Homo sapiens: one gene and its partners. The main gene of each other region encodes a partner of the protein of the gene in region 2 in a complex. Each region holds a gene or a part of one and is shown on either strand. Other genes may lie near its edges. The genes, in order: KCND3, KCNIP1 and KCND2. A codon is read from its position in the direction of its gene.

Evidence for each region.
Region 1: the proteins of KCNIP1 (region 2) and KCND3 are in contact, whole or in part, in a crystal structure (PDB 2NZ0), measured with the Homo sapiens proteins. Residues at the interface, in NP_001030009.1 of Homo sapiens: Leu67, Arg69, Gly70, Phe71, Glu74, Val80, Phe85, Ile88, Tyr89, Phe92, Phe93, Tyr101, Leu105, Phe109, Phe122, Ala125, Leu126, Leu129, Leu130, Leu138, Trp140, Thr141, Leu144, Tyr145, Ile161, Val162, Ile165, Tyr166, Met168, Met169; in NP_001365898.1 of Homo sapiens: Ala6, Ala7, Trp8, Leu9, Pro10, Phe11, Ala12, Arg13, Ala14, Ala15, Ala16, Ile17, Gly18, Trp19, Pro21, Val22, Pro26, Met27, Pro28, Leu29, Ala30, Pro31, Lys34, Lys36, Arg37, Asp39, Trp54.
Region 3: the proteins of KCNIP1 (region 2) and KCND2 are in contact, whole or in part, in a cryo-EM structure (PDB 7E8E), measured with the Homo sapiens proteins. Residues at the interface, in NP_001030009.1 of Homo sapiens: Thr60, Arg62, Glu63, Val66, Leu67, Arg69, Gly70, Phe71, Asn73, Glu74, Phe85, Ile88, Tyr89, Gln91, Phe92, Tyr101, Leu105, Phe109, Phe122, Leu126, Leu129, Leu130, Lys137, Thr141, Leu144, Tyr145, Val162, Ile165, His185, Phe189; in NP_036413.1 of Homo sapiens: Ala2 (codon at 1,614), Val5 (codon at 1,605), Ala7 (codon at 1,599), Trp8 (codon at 1,596), Pro10 (codon at 1,590), Phe11 (codon at 1,587), Ala12 (codon at 1,584), Arg13 (codon at 1,581), Ala14 (codon at 1,578), Ala15 (codon at 1,575), Ala16 (codon at 1,572), Ile17 (codon at 1,569), Gly18 (codon at 1,566), Trp19 (codon at 1,563), Met20 (codon at 1,560), Pro21 (codon at 1,557), Val22 (codon at 1,554), Ala23 (codon at 1,551), Ser24 (codon at 1,548), Gly25 (codon at 1,545), Met27 (codon at 1,539), Ala29 (codon at 1,533), Pro30 (codon at 1,530), Gln33 (codon at 1,521), Arg35 (codon at 1,515), Lys36 (codon at 1,512), Arg37 (codon at 1,509), Thr38 (codon at 1,506), Gln39 (codon at 1,503), Asp40 (codon at 1,500).

Annotation. Positions count from the first base shown.
Region 1 is NC_000001.11:111,770,162-111,776,668, forward strand, and holds the end of KCND3 (A-type voltage-gated potassium channel KCND3), read right to left. Parts: intron 6,118-6,507; coding exon 5,916-6,117; 3' UTR 501-5,915; downstream 1-500. UniProt on the Homo sapiens protein: Pore-forming (alpha) subunit of voltage-gated A-type potassium channels that mediates transmembrane potassium transport in excitable membranes, in brain and heart. In cardiomyocytes, may generate the transient outward potassium current I(To).
Region 2 is NC_000005.10:170,499,544-170,507,060, forward strand, and holds the start of KCNIP1 (A-type potassium channel modulatory protein KCNIP1), read left to right. Parts: upstream 1-4,476; 5' UTR 4,477-5,029; coding exon 5,030-5,090; intron 5,091-7,517. UniProt on the Homo sapiens protein: Regulatory subunit of Kv4/D (Shal)-type voltage-gated rapidly inactivating A-type potassium channels. Regulates channel density, inactivation kinetics and rate of recovery from inactivation in a calcium-dependent and isoform-specific manner.
Region 3 is NC_000007.14:120,268,159-120,276,249, reverse strand, and holds the start of KCND2 (A-type voltage-gated potassium channel KCND2), read right to left. Parts: upstream 3,076-8,091; 5' UTR 1,618-3,075; coding exon 503-1,617; intron 1-502. UniProt on the Homo sapiens protein: Voltage-gated potassium channel that mediates transmembrane potassium transport in excitable membranes, primarily in the brain. Mediates the major part of the dendritic A-type current I(SA) in brain neurons.

The DNA of each region.
Region 1 (6,507 bases), on a different chromosome or scaffold from region 2:
CTGAAGCCAAGAGGGAGTTACTGATGGGAAGTCACAATTCAGTGCTAGAACCTAAACTTGAATCTCCACCATCTGATTCCCAAGCTTTCTACAATACCCCACAGAACATTTAATTCTGAGTTTTCTTTTTAATTTGAGAACTTGGTACTCAGTAAAACCAGTACTGATACATAAAGTCAGATTTTCTTTCAATAATATGGGGTCAGTGTTCAAAATAGAGCCGTTGATAGATAAAATCGAATGCTTTACCTGTTAGCGAACATCCACAAATACAGCATACAAGCAGGCAAGAACCATCAGCGATATCATAGAGGAGTTGTTTATGTTTACATTGAGGGATGGAGTGGGAAGATTACTCTAGGCCTTTAATAACCCTTCTAAGATTCTGTGAGTTTTCTCTAGCAAGGTAGAAAGCCAATCTGTGTTCAAATTATTCTATTTTCTAGCATATACCAGCACCTTTGGGAGGAAAGGAGAATCAGTATTCAAAGAAACAGTCATTTTAGGGTTTGTGGCACATAATTTGTTTAATCCAGATTGGATACATCAGGTACAGCAGTGGCACACGACTCAATACTGTAAATGATATACATGTTTTAACATATGCACTACAGTTTCAAAAGAAGACGACAGGAAACTCAAGGGTGTTTTTTTTTTTTCATAGAAAGTTTTCATGTTTTATCTTCCTGCAGTTTTGTACAGTATATTTCTTCTTTGCCATTGTGATGTTGATAAGCAAAGCCCATTTATTATACGAAAATAGAAAAGAACACACTTGATGTATCTCACGATGACATTAATGGGGGGAAGGGTGTGACCTCTAAGGAAAACATTACATTGGAATGTCTGATTATCAAAAATATACCATCCCTCCCACCTCCCAGGTTTGTAAAATAGTCCATTGGTCCAAGGAGCCCCCCAGGACTTGGGTCAGTGCCGTACACTGGTTAGAGTGACATCATCCAGTGTAGTTGAGTAACCTGCTAAGATAAATGTCATTCCCACACTTGAGAAAAAACACAGAACATTCTGAATAGAAAACAAGACTTAAAAGGAACCCCTTTAAAGCTGTTTCATTTTCTGATAGCCACTTTCTCTTAGTTTTAATGATGCTCTTCATGGTGCTGTTTGGGCTCCGAGGGTCATGGGTCATAACAATGTTTTTCCTTCATCTAGTCATTTTAAAGCTTTGCAAATAATGAGATTTCATTAGGAAATCAGAAAGAGAAAATAAAAGTTTGTCATGGTTACCATGCCAAGTAGTGTAGAAAGGAAATGAATATTGCCTTAAGTTCACAGCATTGGGATATTTTTGCCTTATAGTTACCTGGTAATTGAAGTGGGAGACTGGAAAACTGGAATTCTTTAGTAACCTCGAAATCTAGTGTTAGCTCAATTTTCAACCACTTCCTCTGCAAAACTTAAGGAAAAACTCTTAAGTACATAATGTCCCAATGTACATTTTCCTTGTCTACAATCTAATAAGTGATATCCTGAACTGTAGGAATCATATTTTGAAAACTGGATAAAATCATCAGCATATCCACAAGTTGACATTTTTGTTAATTATAGATCGGCATTAACTGTCAACTTTAAGTTCTGTTCAAATTCTGTGTGATTGTAAACTAATGTGTTCAACTGTCACTGAGAATATCTATTGGTCTTTTGAAAGGGAGTCTATGCAGTTAGTCCTGAGCTTGGCACTAGTTATGAAAATAGGAGATGAAGGAGAAATAGTACAGAGTTTGTTTCCAGAGATCTTGGTTCACGGTGGTTCTGAATTGAATACTTCCCTCCCCCACGTCACCACCCTGGAAATCCAGGTATGAAAAATATAAGCAAGCCTCAGAGCAGTGCAATATAATGTGGAGGAAAAATCCTAGGACAAGATGTCTTAAGTCCTGGATTGCAATAATGGTTCTGCCACTAACTTGTCATGTGAACTTGGATAAGTCGTTCAGTTTCTTTCCACATGTTTTCCCCTCTCTGAATCAAGGATTTAGCTACTTTACCTACTACCATCACAGACTGTCATAAGAACCACAAGGAGTATAAAAGGTATGCTTCAAAATGTCACTGTCCTAGTCTTCTCTTCATTGAGAAGAGAAAATATTTGACTAAAAAAAATTGACTCTTCACTTGTTCACTGATTTCTGACAAAATTGATAGTCCATAGATGTTTCTACCCAGAGAATGGTGGTTTCCAAAGTATGGTTTGTATTGGTACAGTCAGGTGATTTCCAAGGGCTGTGTCCAAGTAGTATTGACATATACGTATTGACATATAAGACTATGTCTCCAATTACAGTATGGATTCTTTGATGGATCTTCTCCAAAGCATCACTGCTCTCAGAGGCAGTGGGTGTGGTAGAAAATGCATTAGACTAATAGCCAAAAGACTCGTGTTCTGGTCTCAGATCTGTCATTAAATAACTGCATGACCTTGAACAAGTCATTTAATTTCTCTGGGTCTCAGTTTTCTATACTGTAAAATGAATTAGATATTCTTAAATCTTTTCTAGTTCTGATATGCTCTTAATACTACATTTTCTAGGTTCACATTCATTTGACATTTGAATGTAACTGTTAGGTTGGTTGGTTGGTTTGTTTTTCCCTCCCCCTCTTAATGCTGAGTGGGACTGAATGGAATAGGTGGTTTTGGGAATATTTTATTATGTCAAAGTGGTTCATGAACTATGAAAGCTCAAGGGTCATGGCTATTGGCCCCCAGAAAATCCTGATATCCTGGTTTTTCAGTCACTGGCCAATGAGTTAGACTTATGAAACCAATTCAGCATACTTTGGACCTTGTGTTTTCTTACAGTACCCTTTAGCAGTGTCATCTGGCTGTGTTCTGTAGTGTAGATGAGCCATTTTCCAAACGTTGACATTTTTTGGACCAGAAGTGAGCTGGATCTTTTCTCTGGCTAAGGCTACAGTGGAGGATGGAGGAAAAGGGGATGGTCTAATGGTCTTTTAGGAAGTGGCATGACGTGGGCTCTGAACGTGAAGTGGAAGGAACACAAAACATTCTGTTGATTAGGACCAATAAAAAAACATGGGAAATTGCTTGGGACATGATATTTAACATTTATTAATTTTTGTGGGAACCAGTAAAATGTTCCCTTGGTGCCCTATCAAACAGATCCTTTGTTGAATCTGTCACTATTCTAACCCTGTAATGATCTGTTCTTAAATTCATCACAGGAAGTTTGTATGTGTGTGCAACCAGTTCTAATTTACCTCCTTTTTTTTTTTCTTTTCTTTTTTTTTTTTTTGAGACGGAGTCTTGCTGTGTCACCTGGGCTGGAGTGCAGTGGTGCAATCACGGCTCACTGCAACCTCTGCCTCCTGGGTTTAAGCAATCCTCCCCCTCAGCCTTCCAAGTAGCTGGGATTACAGGGGTCCACCACCATGCCTGGCTAATTTTTGTATTTTTAGTAGAGATGGGGTTTCACCATGTTGGCCAAGTTGGTCTTCAACTCCTGACTTCAGGTGATCTGTTCACCTCGGCTTCCCAAAGTGCTGGGATTACAGATGTGAGCCACCGCGCCCAGCCCTATTTACCTCTTTATCTCTTACCCCAGTCAGATCTTATGAAGCATAACTAAGATACTTAGACACTCATAATTTTGCTCTAGTACTCATTTTTTTTAAGAGAAAAATTCTTTTCTAGTCCTTTGCCCGCCCTCTAAGTGAAGTTTAGCTTGGTCTTCTAATGAGATGTGTATATGAAGTGAATTGATTTAAGTATGTATTCTCTGATGTGTTTAGGTTGGTTGTGTGTATACACATGTACTCTGTAGTTGTAAAGCTTTTCTGCCTTCTTAGTCTGTAAGCTCAGAGGGCAAGAACCACTCCATTCCCACATTAGGGGACCCAGAGAAAGAACTCAGCCCATGGTCAATGAGGATAAGCATAAAGAGATAAAGACAGAAAGAAGGCTCCCTCTCCTCTGCCTTCTGCCCACATTCTGGTTAGGTGCCACCTCGAAACCTTTTGAACCTACAGGGTCAATCGAGCTGGGGTCATAGGGAAGCCCACGAAGGGTGTTTTTAGGTTCCTGGCTAGTAAAACTCATTTAGATGGCTGTGGTGGGGAGAGAAATTCTTGGCCTACAATTAAACAGCTAACCACTAAGCTGTAGGATGGATAGGCAGCTCCCGAGGAGCTCATGTATTTCAGAGCCCAGGCTACAGAGACTGCAGCAAGGTGGCTGGGTGTTGGGAAGGGCAGGAAAGGACTTGTCACTAACCCTGAGGCCCACCTACTCTGCTACAAGCAGTGAACAATGGTTAGGAGGATTCCAGAAATGCTGCCCCCAGCTCCACCAGGGTGCAAGCTAGTTGAATAGATATGTTGTCCAGGTGTTCAAGAAATAATCTTCACTCCTTTGCTTGCACAGAGGTGATGAGGCTTCTCCCCCATTTCAGCATCTTCAGGGAGATCAGGCCGAAGCCTCTTCAGACATCAAGGCATCTTTCATAGCAGGTAAGAATCATCTAGAATCTCTTACTTGCTTTTGCTTTGAAGCATTTTTCTTGAGGCACACAGGCTTACCCTTCCACAGCCTCTGTGTGGGAGTTGCCTCTGGTTTGATATAAGTCAGAGGAATCTTGGTCCCCGTACCACTGCCCTCTCTGGAGAAAACTACTCCCGGGGCCTCTTGGAAGGGCTCTGGATGGGCTTTATGGTGGGTCTTGAAGGAAGGGTCCATAGCAAGGTGCCCTAATGACCGGCTGAGGCTGCGAGCCCTGGGTCCTTCCGTTCTCCCCTCACTGGCACATACCAGAGTTGACCGCGTCTCAGGTGTTGGCGATTTGCCTTTTCAAGATTCCAGTGTGATAAATCTGTTCATTCCCTTTCTTTCCCAGAAACTGAAACTGCAAACACGAGTGGTTCCAACCCCAAGGGAAGTACCTCTGTTCTGTGAGGTAGACTTCCCTTACCCCTAAACTCTCCCAATTTTTGCTTCACTCTTTCCTCCTCTGCAGTTGCATTCACACAGATAGAACTCCCAGGCACAAGTCTGTTGTGCGTGGCAGTGATGAAGAAGGCTTTACTGATGTGTTTCAGGATCATTGGGATCCAGGTAGAGACAGATGGCTGGACACAGAAACAGCTAGGGGTAAGCAGAGAGGTACAGAGACAAGGGAGACAGGGACAGACAAAGGGTAAGGATTGCCGTGTGGTCACTTGGCAGCTCTGCACAGGTCAGCTGGGCAGTGGGGGCCCAGGCTCAGTTGACCTCACCCACCTGGGGGAATGGAGAGAGAACTCAGCAATAACTGACTTCTTAGCCTAAAAGCTTTTGCTATAAAAGGAGAAAAAAAAATCCCTCACAAAATGCATTGTTTTGGTTCAAAGGTGTTGGGTCCATGGAGAAAAACATTTCACAAAAATCCGTTGGTGTTTTTGTTTTCCACCTTTTCCCATGAATAAATATTATCCATTAAGAGCCTTGAAAAAGGTGCTTAAATACACAGTGTTATATTTTCTTCCTGTTTTGCTTGTGACAACTTGGCCTCTTTGCTGCTCTTGGTCTTGTATTTTCCTCACTGGGGTCTCCAGAAACGACTGTTATTTGGTCTGAGTCTGAGGCTCCTCCATCCAGGCCCTGTCCTGGCACATAGCCTATATCCCCCGGCCTATCCCCGACCCCCCCACCCTCCCTCCCTTCCTCTGGCCCCAGTGAGATGCAGTATCACAGGGCTATGTCCACGCTAGCAGCGTGAACCTCAGGTGCCCCTTTGCTACCTCTTTTTCCTTCCAGGCACAAGTCTCAGTGCTAGGGGTACAATGGGGCAGGCAGAAATAGTGGGGAAAGGGGGGAGGGAGTGGTCTCAGTGACCACCCACCAACATGCCAGTCCCCTTCATTCCCCACTACCCACTCTGGCCCTCTGTCCAGTGGTTTTACAAGGCGGAGACCTTGACAACATTGCTGGCTATGGAAGGAATGTTCGTGTTGGGGCCTGGGCTGGCAGGGGGTGGCCGACTTTCCCCCTCTGGGGTTAGCGCTGGGGGAGTGGGGATGCTGATGATGGCTGTGGTGATCTGGGATGTTTTGCAGTTTGGTCTCAGTCCGTCGTCTGCTTTCAAATTAAGGCTGGAGCGACTGGGATAGAAAAGAGTGAGTTGATGATGGTTCCTGCTGGCCAGCGTCCCAAAGCTTCCTTGACCCCCTACATTTCTTGCTCGTGGTAACTAGGAGGATATTTTGTTGTGCCTCTATCTCTGCCTTTTGTAATCAACTTGTAATTATCCATTCTAATTATTATTCCCAAACTACCAGAAATTACCAAGTTGTATATAGTAGGCTTTGAATTGCAGAATGTACATCACCCCCACCAGTGATTGTATATCTATCATTTGTGGCATTTGGCATTTGCATTCCCTGAATTCTCTGCAACGCATTTGGAGGTAGTGGGAAGTGGCCTAAATATAAGCAGAGGGGGAGGGAAAAGTCAGTCTCTGGGATTCAAATCAGCCTAGGATAAGCCATGAG
Region 2 (7,517 bases):
TCAGTGTTTGAACCCAATTCTAGCAGCCTCCCAAATTAATGCTCTCAATCTGACTCTATGCTACCTCTGTGCCTGGAAGGAACTACTGTTGTCCATAAGGATGAGAAGAAACATGGCTAAGGGAGCACTGAGTAGGGAGGAAGGAGGCAGCAGGGAGGAAGAAATAAATTAAGAAAGAAAGAGATACAAAGAGGAAGAAAGGAGAGGGGGAGGGAGGGAAAGAACAGGGCTTGTGTGTTACATAAACTCAGACAAGCACATGCATGTTTTAACAGGATTCCTGCAGGTCTGACAATCTCACTCCTTCCTCCCTGAACAACCTTAGAGGGGTTGCCTAAGGAGTCCTATATAGAGGCTTATGGCAGAAGGAAGGCCTTGCGTCCAGAACTTTCTGAGCTCATGGATTGACACTGGGGTTGCGCATCAGTCTGCTTGGAATGCCTTCAAAAAATACCCCAGTCTGGGTGGCTTATACAACAGAAATCTATTTTCTCATGGTTCTGAAAACTGGAAGTCCAAGATCAAGGTGCCAGCAGGGTTGGTGTCTGGTGAGGCCTCTCACCTTGTGTTGCAACTGCCTTTTCCCTGTGTGCTCACATGGTATCTTTGTGCGTGGGGGGTCTTTGGAGTCTCTCCTTGTAAGGACACTAACTCTATCAGATCAGGGCCCCACCCTTATGACCTCTTTTAACCTTCATTAGTTCCTTAGAGGTCCCTTCTTCAAATACAGCCATACAGGGGCTTAGAGCTTCAACACAGGGATTTTGGAGGGACACAAACATTCAGTCCACACCGGGGTGCATGAGGGAGGGGTCAGAGCTGGAGAAAGTGCATGAGCTAGTTCACCTTCCAGAGTAAAGGGAGCAACAGCCACTGAAGCTCAGGTTGGATGGGGCTGGCAAGGTCGCTGTATTGAGTACATCATGGGAGGGACAACAGGACAAATGGCTCCTGCAGTCAGGGTGACTGATGGGAGGCTTCTTCAGCACTCCCTCTGCACATTCATTTTGTCACTCCCTCTCTCCCCATGCAGTTCTTTGCTCTCTGTTGCAAGTTCCCAGGAGGCAGGCAGAGGGCCTGTTATCATCATCTTTCTCTCTTGCCCCTCACACTTACCTGTGTTCTTCTACTTAGACACATTCTTTGTGAGCATCTCATGGGTGATGTTGGCTGCATTGTACAGTGGGCACGTGCGTATGTGTGTGTATTTATCTGCAAATAATACCCATGTCACAAGGCGTCCGCAGGAATAAATGAGCTATTGTGCATGTAAATATCTGGTACATGGTAGATACATGAATGAATGAATATTTGTTGAATAAATAAGTGAATGAATGAATCTTCACTTGGCAGAGCATGTGTCTTCCTTTAAGGGGCAAGGATGATCTGGTAATCATCAGTTTCTGCTTACTAACTGGGTCACTGAGCAAAGAAAAGAGACTCACTCATTCATTTATTCAGCATAGGTTGGCTGCACCCCTGTCAGAAACCGGAGGTTAAGCAGAAAGTAGAGAGTTAAATCAGTATGTAAAGCAGTTAAAACAGTCCAGAGGGAGAGACAGGCAAGGAAAGGAACAATGAGAAACAAAGTAAGGAGTGCTCTGATAAGAAGCCCTGGGTGCTATGGAAACCACAAGCAGGGCACCGACTCAGGGCCAGGGAGGGATCCCTGGAGGAGATGACATCTGCAGTAGATATTCCAGGGTAAGCAGCAGGTGGCCAGAAGGAGAAAGAGGTGAGGAACATTCCAGGCAAGGGGAACAGCACGTGCAAAGGCCCTGAAGGAGAACCACAACACGCATCTGAGAAATAGTGAGGGGTCTGGGTGGCTGAGCCACAAAGGGAACACCAGGGGTCAGGGAGGATTTGTAGAAGAAGCCACAGGCCACAAAAAAGACCTCATAATTCATGTTCAATGGTTTGGATTTTATTTTGGTGACTTCACTTTATACCTACTGTTCAGAGGCAGCCAATTGCAAACACGTCCAGAAGCACTTTGCTATTTCTGATCTGCAAAATGGAGCAAGTCATCTGTACTCTGCTTCTTCAGTGGGTTGTGGGGAAGCAGAAATGAGAGGATGACATTCTAGCCTTTTGTGACCTCTCAAGTGCTGTCCTTATGGTCATTCAGGTACCATGAAAATTAGCAGAGCCCCAAGGGGGAAGTAGCTTGGTGCTCACCCAGTGGTATCCCTGACAAGTTGGCAAAGACACCCAGGGTGGCTTAACTTTCTCCTCAGCAAAGAGCTCTCCTCTGTTCCCTGAATCCTGGATATCCCACTGGGTCCTCTAGTGACCCCAAGCTTCAGCCTCGCATGCCCTCTTCTCGAACAGAGAAGGCAGGAGGGAAGCAGGGACCAGCCCCTGCTCCATCTTCCAGGATTCCAGGCCTCCCTGGCCTGGACAAGCCCTGAGCTGGCAGTTAGGAGAGCAGAGGTTGTGAATCTGGTGGGACCCCCAGCAGGTCTTTCTGGCTCAGTGCCCTCATCTGTGAGCAGGGGTTCCCCAGGAGACCACGACAGAGGCCTGGAACCCAAGTTCTAATCCCACATCCTGGCTGGGCAACTTCAGGCAAATTTCTAACACAAGGTAAGCCTCAATTTCTCTCTGGGGTAATGATCAGGCACCTGCTTAATTCACAGGGGTTTGGTGGGCATCACGTGGACAATGTGGTTGCACAGCAGTGGGCAATGCAAAGGAAAGGAAGTATGTTAGTAAGTGCCCCTCCCCTGTTGCACAAAACAGGACACATGCTGGGATTGCAGAAAAGCAATAAATGCTGCACAGGTGAAGAAAACTATTCAAGGACCCTGGCCAAGTCACAGGCTACCTGTGGCCCTGAGGGGACAGCTCATGGGTTGGCATTAGGGGAAGCAGCTCTCAAGGGGCCTGTATCCTGGGGATTCAACTCTGTGCCTATGTGGCATTGAGCCTGTGTGAATGTGGTGACTGTCATGCTGTTTTGCTGTGTGTGCGTCTGCATGCCTGTGTGTTTGTGTGTCTCTCCACCTTCGTGGGGGGCAACTGTAGGTGTATTATGAGCCTTGGGTCTGTCTGTGTGTACAATAGCAATGTCTGTGCGGACTTAAGGACCTGCGCCCATATGTTTGTGGGACTTTCTGGGCATGCATGCTTGTTTATGAGGCCATACATCCGGGTATTCTGTGAACTGCTAGCATGGTGTGTATCTGTGTGGCAGACAGAAAATGGCTGGGTGGGATTGTAGGGGGCAGCTTGGGCAAAGGATCCTCAGTGTCAATCAAAATGGGTCTCAGTGGGAACCCAAGCAGCTCAGACTTGGGGGAGGGGAAGCTCTTCCTCCACCTTCCAGGGAGCAAACCTTGCAATTCAACACCACAAGGCTTTGAGTCCACAGGCAGGGACGCAAACTTTGCCCATTGGGTGAGACGCCACTCACAGAAGGGAAATGGCTTCCTAAATCTAATCATTGCCCCTTCAAGCACTAACAACCCGTGCCCAGGAGCTGATGGCTAATGAATTATTGAGCTGGAAAGGGAGAAGAGGTAGAACCAAGGAGGAAAGAAACAGAAAAATGAGAGAGCAGGCCGGGTGGGGTGGCTCTCGCCTGTAATCTCAGCACTTTGGGAGGCCAAGGCGGGTGGATCACCTGAGGTCAGGAGTTCAAGCCCAGCCAGCCCAACATGGCGAAACCCCGTCTCTATTAAAAAATACAAAAAAATTTAGCTGGGCCTAGTGGTGGGCGCCTGTAATCCCAGCTACTCCGGAGGCTGAGGCAGGAGAATCGCTTGAATCTGGGAGGCAGAGGTTGCAGTGAGCAGAGATCGCACCACTGCACTCCAGCCTGGGCAACAGAGCGAGACTCCGTCTCAAAAAAAAAAAAAAAAGAAAAAGAAAAATGAGAGTGTAAGGGCCCAGAGGGGCTGAGGGCTCCTTTCTCCTCCCCAACTCCCTGTCACTAGAAGGTGGGCCCTGCCATAGGAGGATTCTGCAGAACCCTCAAGGACCCGCGGAGCAGGACGGCACCTTCTTCCCATGACCACCCATTTGGATGTGTTTTTCACCCCTTTCTGGGTGGGGCAGACTTTCCCCCTCCCCATGAGTTCAGGCAGTGGGTTAAATAAGATTTCCCTTGAAGTCGAATGAAATCACAATGCACCACACACAGGGACACACACACACACACACGCACGCACGCACATCACACACACACACACACACACACACACACACACACACACATACACACACACAGTCTCCCTGGGGCCAATCTACTGCCCCCTGAACCTCACCCATCAGCCAGGTGCCTGGCCCCGGGTCTGTCTCTTAGGGTTACATGCTCCCGGGGCTCCCGCACATACCCCGGCAGATGAGGGTGCGCAGGGGTGAGGGCGCAGGGCTGGGCGTCCCCCGCCCCCACCGTGCAGCCCTCGCCCCCGCCCCGCCCCTCCGTAGTTGCCCGCCCGCCGCCCCCTCCGCCGCCCCCTCCGCCGCTCCGACTCTCGCCCCGAGCGCTGGCAGCAGGCAGCAGGCAGCAGGCGGGCGCGCTGTGGCTCCGCGCCGCGCGGTCCGGGCTCTGTTCATTCATGATTGGTACTCGGCCCTCCGAGACCCAGCCCGAGCGCAGGGAGGGGAGCCGAGTGTGCGGCAGGAGGGGCGGGCGGACGGCGGCTCCCGCACCGCACGCGGCGCTGGCTCGGCAGCCTCGGCCGGGCGGCCGCTCTGGCCCCGTGTCCAGTGCCAGGCAGGCTTCAGGGCACCGTCCTCGGCCCTGGGCGAGGGAACCGCCGGGCCGGGTCCTCGCGCGGGGAAGCGGTTCCGAAGGCTCGCGGGGAGCGGCTAGCCCTGAGTCCCTGCATGTGCGGGGCTGAAGAAGGAAGCCAGAAGCCTCCTAGCCTCGCCTCCACGCTTGCTGAATACCAAGCTGCAGGCGAGCTGCCGGGCGCTTTTCTCTCCTCCAATTCAGAGTAGACAAACCACGGGGATTTCTTTCCAGGGTAGGGGAGGGGCCGGGCCCGGGGTCCCAACTCGCACTCAAGTCTTCGCTGCCATGGGGGCCGTCATGGGCACCTTCTCATCTCTGCAAACCAAACAAAGGCGACCCTCGAAAGGTAAGCCACCTTCTTCCTTTTGTTCCCCTGTCTGGGCTTGGGGGTGCTAGGCGCCGAGGTGGGCTGTGCCACCTGCCTCCCTTAGTCCGGACTCTCCTCTCCACGAGGAGCCCGGACAGGTGCTTGTATCCAAAGGAGAGAGAAATCGGCGGGAGGGCTGGTGTGAACACCCAGAGGAGGGAGCCGGAGTGGACGTCTGCCCCAGCGGCAACTGGACCCCTCTGGGGCACCAGGTGTCGGGACTCTCCTCCTGGGGAAATCTCTGAGAGCCGAAGGAAGCGGCATGTTCACAGGTGGGGGTGACCGGATTCTCTGGTGGAAGTGTGGTGAAGCTCTTCCCATTCCCATGACAGCTGGCGTTTGAGCACTCAGTGAGGGTGCTGCCACACTCCCACACTCCTCCTAGGCGGCTATGCCAGGTGCAGACCTGCGAGTCCCTTCATCAGGAAGAGTGCTCTGTCTGCACCCCCAAAACCTCTGCAAGCCAAAAGGAATCAGCTGCTGCCAGGGGTAAAACTCCCAGGCCTCATGTCCTGGTGGCTCCGGGAGTCAGGAGGAGCAACCGTGAAGGGCTGGCTGCGAGCTGAGCTTACATCAAGGATTAAAAAGCATAATATCGTGGAGTCTCTTCTGCCTGGACGCTGTTCCTTCACCACCTGTCCCCAGCCGAGGCATGGCTGATCTCACCATCCGTGGGAGAGTCCTCAAATGGGTCCAGGTGAAGTTGGAACCAGTGTGTTGGGCCCTGGAGGACAATGCAGGTCTCCTTACCAGCAGTTCAAAAGTTAGTGGTTGGAATAAAGAGACTGGAAGCAGTTAGGAAACGGGAAATGATGGGTTTTGTTTTGTTTAATGTTCAAATGTCACTACGAGTGGTAAGATTTTAAGCAGCTTGACACTTAAACATTCAAATTCTACCATCAGAGCCCCCATCCTGGATACAGGTGGGAGTTAAGCTCCTACCCTACAGGCCTGATAGTGAGTAGAAGTGTAATGGGGTAAGGGACCCCAAGTGAACAATAAGTCTCCTCTTAGAACTTGGTTGGTCTCACCCTGTTTAGAACCACAGAGATCTCCATAAGTAAGCTGTCCTTGAAACCCCCTGGAAGAAGGGGTCCCAGCTTCTGGCCCAGCTCCCAGGGGCATCAGGCTGGCTGAGCCCCGAGGAAAGAGATCTCTGGGTGCAGATCTTAGGTGCTGAAGCTGGGTTGGCATTTACATCCTAGAACATAGGAAGAGGCTTTGGCCCATTTGTCCAGCTGAGTTACATGTCCTGCTGGCAAGGAAGGGACTGGTTGTCCTGTTACCAGTCCTGACCAGAACAGGTCTGCAAAGCTCAGCCCAAGGCCTTGACATTCTAAGCCTCACCTCTCACAGATCCTGGGATGCTGCTTGACTGGGGACAATTTTCAGCGCCAAATATAGGTCTTCTCCCTCATCATCTGTCTGACCACCATGCGGTCTCAGAGGCCAGGGGACTGTGGGGACAGGAAAGTCAGGGGCTTGTTTTTAAATATTTTCAATGCCTGTGGCTCTCCTGGGAGCTGGGTGTCACAGAAAGATCTCAAGCCCTAGAGTCAAGTGGAGTCTGGGTGTGAATCCCAGCTCCATCACTCCCTGCCTCTGGGACCTTAGGAAAGTCCCCCGCACCTCCCTAAGCCTCAGTTTTTCATCCATGAAATTCGTATGCTACTTCCCGGAGGGAAGGGTATGTAGGAAGTAGAGGAAGGGAAGACTCTGCCTCATATACTGTGTTGGCTGCAGCCACCAGGGACCCAGAGGAAGTTGTTGTAAGGATGTGAGAATCAAATGAATGATGAATAGGGAGCTCCGTGCATAGGGCTGGGAAAAGAGTAAGAGCTCAGACATTGCTGTCTACCATTTCCTTCTCCTGCCCCAAACATCCAGGAATTCACCCTGGATGAATTCCTGCAGGATTCCCAGAGTACAAAGGTCTTTGCTTCTGTCTCCTCGGATTCTAAGAAACAGAAGAGGGGGTACTGGCATTCAGTGTGTCCCTACTGTGTGCTTGCCATAATGCTCGGTGTTTTATCAACAACTCTCATTTAACCCTCACAACAATGTTCGTTTGAGGCTCATAGCAGGTTCGGGGCCAATGGGTGGACTCCCAAGACAAGCTATCGAAGCACTGGGCACTCAGCCCTTCCTGCACAAAGCCCACTGGCGTGAGTTGTCCAGGGGTCCAGCTGCATATGTTCCCCCAGGTATTTGCCCCCGAAGCACAGTCATCTCACTGCCTTGCATAGTGGAATGCTAATCAGCAGAAGACCCTTCTATGGGAGGCAGCTTGGAAACCTGGAGGAAGCCCTGGCTGAGGAGGCTAGTGGTCAGGGAGCCTATCCTGGCCAGGTCACTTTTCCCCACTGGGGCCTCGGTTTCTTCTTTGTAAAGGGAGAAACTTACATT
Region 3 (8,091 bases), on a different chromosome or scaffold from region 2:
TCTATGTATTACGATGTAAAATAGGAATTATGGTTCTTAGAGGAAAAATGTACACCATAAGTATCTATTCATATGAAAATAATAGTTCAAGTATACCTGGAAACTTTTCATTTAAATGCATTGAACCACTTTATAGACATTTCAATATACATTGTATATATTTGTGTCTTTATTAGGGCATAGATTTTGTTTTTCATTGTCATATTTTTATATATTAATATAAATATTGCTACTACTTTCATATATTCAGGAATTCTAAAATTTCTTTGTATCTTTATCACTTTCAGGCATCAACATTTGCCAGCAATGCCTTAATACTTCAACGTGTGTATTATACCCATTTCACAGATGAAAAGAGTTTTGCCAAACCATTTAGATAATGCTTTCCTAAACTCAGGAAAGAAAACAAATGATTTCCCCGGAGTTACCATGTAACCTCGATGGGTCCACAATCGCCTCACCCATACCCAACCTCCATCCCATTTCCCATTATGGCACCTACCCTAGTGTTGTCATGGTGACGATGGTATACCAGAAGGCTGCAGGGATGCTGGTGAACTTGCTAGCCGAAGACCCCTTCTCTGCGTAGAACATAACTGTAGCGAAGATGATGATAGCCATGGTGAGCGAGAAAAGCAAGAAGCCCAATTCTGAGGCACAACTCTTCAGTGTGTACCCCAGGATGCGCAGGCCTTGAGAGTGGCGGGAAAACTTAAAGATCCTGAAGACCCGGAAGACTCGGAGTGTGACAAAGGCTCCGCTGACGTCCTCATTGTCTGTCATCACCAGCCCAATGTAATAAGGCAGGATGGCCACCACGTCGATGATACTCATGACACTACGCACAAAACGGTAACGACTAGGCGCTGCAGCCAGGCGAAGCAAATACTCAACTGTGAAGATCATGACGCAGGCCGTGTCCAAGCAGAAGAAGGCCACAGCATACCGCTCTCCACAGGGCAGTTCTTTAATGTGACCTGGGCTTGATCCGCACGGCACTGTTTCCACCACATTCGCGATGACAGAGACGGCAATGAAAAACCCCGTGACATAGTAGAACACCAGGGCCATCGTGCTGGTGTGGGGGTTCTCGAAGGCCCTCCAGACCCTCTGCCTTGCAGTCATGGTGGGCAAGGCGCTCTCCCCAGCGGTGTCGGTATCCGCGTCGTCCTGCAGGCGCTCGGCGTTCTCTCGCCTGCGATCCTTGTACTCCTCATAACAGCAGTCGCCGATGATTTCCGGGATGAGGCCAAAGAAGGCCAGTTCTTCATCGTAAGCAGAGATGCACTCGTGGCGAGGATAGTGGAGCTTCCCAGTGCGGTAGAAATTCAGGATGTGGCGGAAGATGTCTGGGTCACGGTCAAAGAAATACTGCTGAGTTTCTGGGTGGTAGAAAAAGTCCCTCTCAGAACTGCCCAGTAGAGTGTCTGGGTAACGTTCCAGGGTGTCCTGCCACGTCTGGAAGCGGGTGCCACTCACATTCAGCACAATGAGAGCATCTTGGGTCCTTTTCCTCTCCTGCCTCGGGGGAGCCGGCATAGGCCCCGAGGCCACAGGCATCCACCCGATAGCCGCTGCCCTTGCAAAAGGCAGCCACGCTGCCACCCCCGCCGCCATGATTACTTGAAGCGGAAGGAAGAAGGGTAACGAGGCGTCTACAATGGGTCACCGAAGCAGCCAAAAGTCACCCACTTCCTCCAGTCAAGCAAAGTACTAGTGAGAAACGTGGTCCAGAGGTGTAACTCTTATTCCAAGATAGGGCTCCTGGTAAAGTCACAGTTCTCAGAAGGGCAACTTTCCCTCCAAGACAGGTATTTGGAATAATGGCAACAAAATACAACGTCCTAACAATCACCCTCAACAGAACCCAGCCAAATCTCTTCCTGCAGGTGGGCTAGGCCACCCTCTGGCACAAATAAGCACACAGGTGCAGCCGTTTCTTCAAACAGGTGTTTTTGATTTCTCCCCGGCACAGTCTGGATAATATAGGGTCAGTATGTGGAGTGTAGGATAGAGAAGACGAACGAGAGTCACCCAATAGAATTCTTTCGACGAATTAGGGAACCCTTACACCTACCCTTCTCACTCTTTCAAACCTTCCTTTCCAAGTAGCCCTTCCCGCCAAAGGAGTCTCAAAAAGGCGACCTGTTGTTGTAGCTCAGGAGATGCGGTCACAGCCGCTGCCCCACGTCTCTCTTTGGGGGTCCAGCTGCTGCTGCCTCTACTCCTCGGGCTGTATTTGCAGAGATGGAGGTGATGTGCAGTGGTTACGGTGGGGGGCGTTAATAGAGATTCTCCTCCCCCACGTCTACAAACACCCTCTGTGTCTGCCAAAAGCGTTCGCCCAATCGCCCCTTCACTCTCTTTTCAAGTTCAGCTCAGGTGCAGTGTGACAGTTACAGAGCTCAGGAGCTGGCAGCCGCCGCCGCCGTGGCGGCAGCAGCATCTGCTTCCGCGCAGAACGCGCCGCTCCCGCGGTACATACCTGGCCAAGTGCGCGCCGGGGCTTAGTTGCATAGAGACTTTCTCCTCGCCGTGCACCCGGAAAGGGAAGAGGAGAGAAAGCAGCTCGCGAGCAGCCGAATCCGATGCGCCGAGAGAGCATAAATAAAGCTCAAGCGAGCTCTTCTTTCCCTTCCCCCATCCCTCCGTGCCTCCCTCCTCCTTTTCACCTTCCAAAAGCCAGGCGCAGGCGAGCAGAGCAGCAGCAACAAGTTCAAAAGGTGCGGGGGAGGCGAGAACGGAGGGGACTCGCTCCTGCCAACTTACTGCGGGGCCACTGTCGCGGGAGCCTGGCCAGCGCGGTGCGGGGCTGCGGGGCGGCGGGGCTGCGGGGCGGCCGGGCGGGCGGCGTTGGCGCGGTGGGGCCGGGGCCGGGGCCGGCACGGGCTCTCGTCCGAGCGCGGAGGCAGAAGGCGCTCGGCAGCGCGGGGGCGCGGGAGGGCTGCTAGCTGCTTCCCCGCCAGTGGGTGGTCCTGCATCTCCCCGGGCTCCCCGCGCTGCTCTGCTAGTGCGATCAATAAATAAGGAGAAAATAAATAAATAACCGCGCGCACGCCCCGCCACGCAGGTTAGGAAAGGCGTCTCCTGCCTTTCCCTCGGCTTGACCTTTCTCCGCCCCCGCCCCCTCGGGCTCCTCTCGCTCCACCCCAGCCACCCACCAACCCCGGCGCAAAATGTCACCGAGGGAGAGCATCCAGGTGGATCTGCTGGGGAGAAAAGCGAGCCTCGGATGAACAAAGGGAAGCTTCACGTGCTGGGCTGCGGTGGTTTGGTGGAGGAGAGGAGAAAGGGGACCCGTGCCTTGCTTCTGCCTCTCGAGTCCCGGTTCAAGGCGAGCGTGGGAAAATGGGGGGAAAGAGAGCGAGAGAAGCTGGGAAGGAGGGTGAGCGGAGCGGAATGCGCAGGAATTGGTTGTCTTCTGGGGGCGACTGGAAGGCAAGACCCGCAAAGCTCCGACGCGGAATTTTTAAGTGCATTTCCTCTTTCTGTTTTTATTTATTTTCAAAACCAGATTGTTAACGTTGCAGGGATTGATATGCCATCTGTCCAACTTGCCAAAAAATCAGAGACTCTCCTCGATCGAGGTCTTGACACAACTCCTTTTCCCGTCCTTTACGAATAACAGGGATGTGGAGCCCTTTTCTAAATGTCATCGTCAAGGGGCGTGCGTCTCTGAAAGTTTGCGTCCCCTTCATCCTCTCTGCGCATCACTGCGCATATTTAAAATAGTTAAAAGAGTTAAAGGTGTTCGTATGAGGGGTTACTGAGGTAGAGAGACACAGGAAAATTGTCGCTACCAACCTTTTTGTTTTTCGCGTACCCCGCCCCCGAGTCATTAGGAATCATCCTTAAAACCAAACGTAACACATACAAGCCACTAGATGGCGTGGATGGCGAGAAGTTAAATCTGCACCTAAGGTTTGGATGCTTTAGGAAGGTGAAGGATCAAAATTAACTGGTCCAACAGAGAGTCAGATCACATAAACATCCCCAAACCCCTTCGCTGCCACCCACCTTTTTTGTGTTTATGTGACATATACTACTTAGGCTTGAGTCTGCATTTGGATAGTTGTGGGATGAGATGTGGAGAGTTTCCTTTTGAAATTCCTTTGAAAATTAAATCTAGATTACTGAATCATCATCATCATAGTAATTAAGATCTTTGGCAATAATGAGGCTTCATCTGTATTGATGAAGAATAGTAGCCTAATTTCTACCTAAAAATTACTTTTCATGGCTTGGTTTGACTGCCCTTGGTTTGTAAAATAAGTGGACTGTGTGTTGTACTTTACGGAAATTGACTTTTAAGCCCTAGAGATTACAGGCATGATGTGTCAACCTTGAAAATTTGAAATGGGATACGTCAAAGAAAATATATAAACTAAAAAATGAGTATAGAAAATAACCAGAGAATTTAAAATATCCTTATCATGTACAGGATTTTCTGTAGAGATAAAAGGGTATTTTTTGTTTGTTTATTTGTTTACAGAATAGAGATTTAAGGAATCCTGTGTCAGTAGTAATGAAGTCAGAGCTAATGCACCATTTAAGTTTGAGGACAAGGAACTGAAGACACCTGCTCTTTATCTATTTGTTTAAGTGAAAGATGCTTGTTAACCAATCTATATAGCCTGCATACCTGAAAACAAACACACAAGCATGTTACCTGGAAAATGGAAATGAGGGGCTTACTACCAATTAATATAAGAAAACCAACCCCTCGTTAGTCCAAACAGTAAGGTGGCACTATGACAGGTGCTGGGCATGGAATCCAGAGGGTGGAGCGCCATGAATATTTAATCAATGCCAATAATGGCATGCTTTCCTGTAAAGATGGGGCGAGGAACCTAAATAGAGCCTTTAAAACTGTGTGGGAAACTGAATGCTTACAAATGTAAAAGTAGGAGCTTAACTCACAAAAGCCCCAAAGAAGCAAGAACATAATATGTACAGTTTTTAAGAAGGTACTGGGATCTGCCCTCCTGCATCTTCAACAAGCTTCTTGATATAGTGGAAAGAATGTGGGCTGAGAACTTAAACACATCTAAATTCAAAATCTTGCTTAAGAAATTACTTACTGGCTTTGTTTCATTTGGCAAATTACTTCTATGATTAGAAATTATAGATAATGAAATTTAACTTTTCAGGCCTGTCGTGAAGATGAAACAGGATCATACTTCTGAACACCAGTGAAATACTTAGCACATGAAGTGTACTCAATATTGGTTCTTTTTTATTGTAATGCATAATGCTAATGCAATTCATTTTATCCAGCCCGTATTTGGAATTCCCTTAGATACTTTCCATAGTTATGTATTGCTTAATGACAGGGATACATTCTGAGAAATGTGTCTTTAGGAGATTTCATCACTGTCTGAATATCATAGAGCGTACTTACACAAACTTAGGTGGTATAGCCTACTACACACCTATGCTATATGGTACAGCCTATTGCTCCTAGACTACAAACCTGCCATCATGTTACTGTACTGAACACTGTAAGCAATTTGTAACACAGTGGCAAGTATTTGAACCTCTAAACATATATATACACAGAAAAGTTGCAGTAAAAATACAGTATAAAATATTTTTAAGAACGGTACACCTTTATTTGGCACTTCCTATGAATGGAGCTTACAGAACTGGAAGTTTCTCTGGGTGATCAGTGAGTAAGTGGTGAATGAATGTGAAGGCATAGCACATTACTGTACACTTCTGTAGACTTTATAAACACTGTATATTTAGGCTATGCTAAATTTATTTTTAAAATCTTATTTTTCCTTCAATAATAAATTAACCTTAGCTTACTATCTTTTTTTACTTTAAAAACTTCAATTTTTAACTTTTTGACTCTTTTGTAATAACACTTAGCTTGAAACACAACACATTATACAGCTGTACAAAAAAATATTTTCTTTATATCCTTATTCTGTAAGTTTTCTTCTATTTTTGTACTTTTTTTGTTTTGTTTTGTTTTGAGACAGAGTGTCGCCCAGGCTGGACTGCAGTGGTGCGATCTCAGCTCACTGCAAGCTCTGCCTCCCGGTTTCACGCCCTTCTCCTGCCACAGCCTCCCGAGTAGCTGGGACTACAAGCACCTGCCACCACGCCTGGCTAATTTTTTGTATTTTTAGTAGAGACGGGGTTTCATCGTGCTAGCAAGGATGGTCTTGATCTAGACCTTGTGATCCACCCTCCTCGGCCTCCCAAAGTGCTGGGTATTTTTGCACTTTTTAAAAACTTTTTGAATGTTTTGTTAAAAGCTAGGACACAATTACACTGGCACAGACCTACACAGGGGCAGGATTATCAGTATTACTGTTTTCCATATCCACATCTTTTCCTACTGAACGTTCTTCATTCTGTCTTCAGGGACAGTAACATGCATGGAATACCAAGGCATACCAATGCCTTCTTCTGGAATACCTCTTGAAAGAGCCTGCTTCAGGCTGTTTTACAGTTAGCTTTCTTTTATAAGTAGAAGGAGTACACTAAAAAATAATGATTAAAAGTATAGTATACTAAATATATAAACCAGTAACATCGTTTATTATCATGATCAAGTATTATATATTGTACATAATTGTATGTGCTGTACTTGTGCAAGACTGGCAGCACAGCAGCATCCTCACAGACACCTGAGTAACGCATTAGGCAAGGACATTACAATGGCTGCGCATCCCTAGGCAGTAGGAATTTTTCAACTCCCTTATAATCTTTTTGTTTTTTTCCTTTCCAACTTTTATTTTAGGTTCAAGGGGTCCATGTGCAGTTTTGTTACATGGGTAAATTGCGTGCTTTAGGGGTTTGGTGTGCAGATAATTTTGTCATGCAGGTAATCAGCATAATACTCAATAGTCCCCTCCTTCTACCCTCCACCCTCAAGTAAGCCCCGGTGTCCACTGTTTCCTTCTTCGTGTTCATATGTGCTCAATGTTTAGCTCCCACTTAGCAGGGAGAACATGTGATATTTGTTTTTCTGTTTCTATGTTAATTCACTTAGGATAGTGGTCTCCAGCTCCATCCATGTGGCTGCAAAGGACATGATTTGTTTTTTTTATTGGCTGCACAATATTCCATACTATGTATGTGCTACATTTACTTTATCTAGTCCACTGTTGATGGGCATCTAGGTTGGTGTCATGTCTTTGATATTATGAATAGTGCTGTGATGAACGTACATGTGCGAGTGTCTCTAGGGCAGAACAATTTCTATTCCTTTGGATATGTATCCAGTAATGAGATTGCTGGGTTGAATGGTAGTTCTATTTGAAATTCTTTGAGAATCTCCAGACTGCTTTCCACAGTGATCATGGCAATCAAGCAAGAGAAAGAAATAAAAGGGATCTAAATAGAAAGAGAGGAAATTAAACTACTTCTCTTTGAAAACTATATGATTTCATACCTAGAAAACCCCATAGTCTGCCCAAATGCTCCTGTCTCTGTGAACAACTTCAGCAAAGTTTCAGGATACAAAATCAATGTACAAAAGTTAGTAGCATTTCTACACATCACTAACATCCAAGCTGAGAGTCAAATCAAGAATGCAATTCCATTCACAATAGTCCATTATAATCTTATGGAACCACTGTGTATATGTGATCCATCATTGACTGAAATGTCGTTATTTGCTATATGTCTGTCTGTATTTACTCTTCCCTCCGAATTCAAAAATCCCCTTGTTCTGATATTCAGATGATAGTGATATTTTAGTCTTCATTCATGCATTGAAATGCTATGTGAAAAGTAGGCATACAAATTCTCGAAGAGCACGGTATATATCTCCCTTGCTTAGGGATTCTTATTCTTTACTCTTCTCATTTTATATACTCTGTTTGGTTGATTACAAGGAAAACAAACTCAGCAGGATCAACCTTGAATGCATCATCTCTCTCTTCCAATCATCTACTCCCTCTTTTCTCTTTTGATCAGTGAAGTCCCACAAAGAAACCTGGTGGTCATCCTGTTCTTTACTACTTGCCCCCCAGCAAACACCCAGACATAGCCAATGACCCAATAGGTCTTATATATTCCACCCTCATTACCATCTATCTATCCTTACACTGCACCTAGAGTGAATTAAAACAA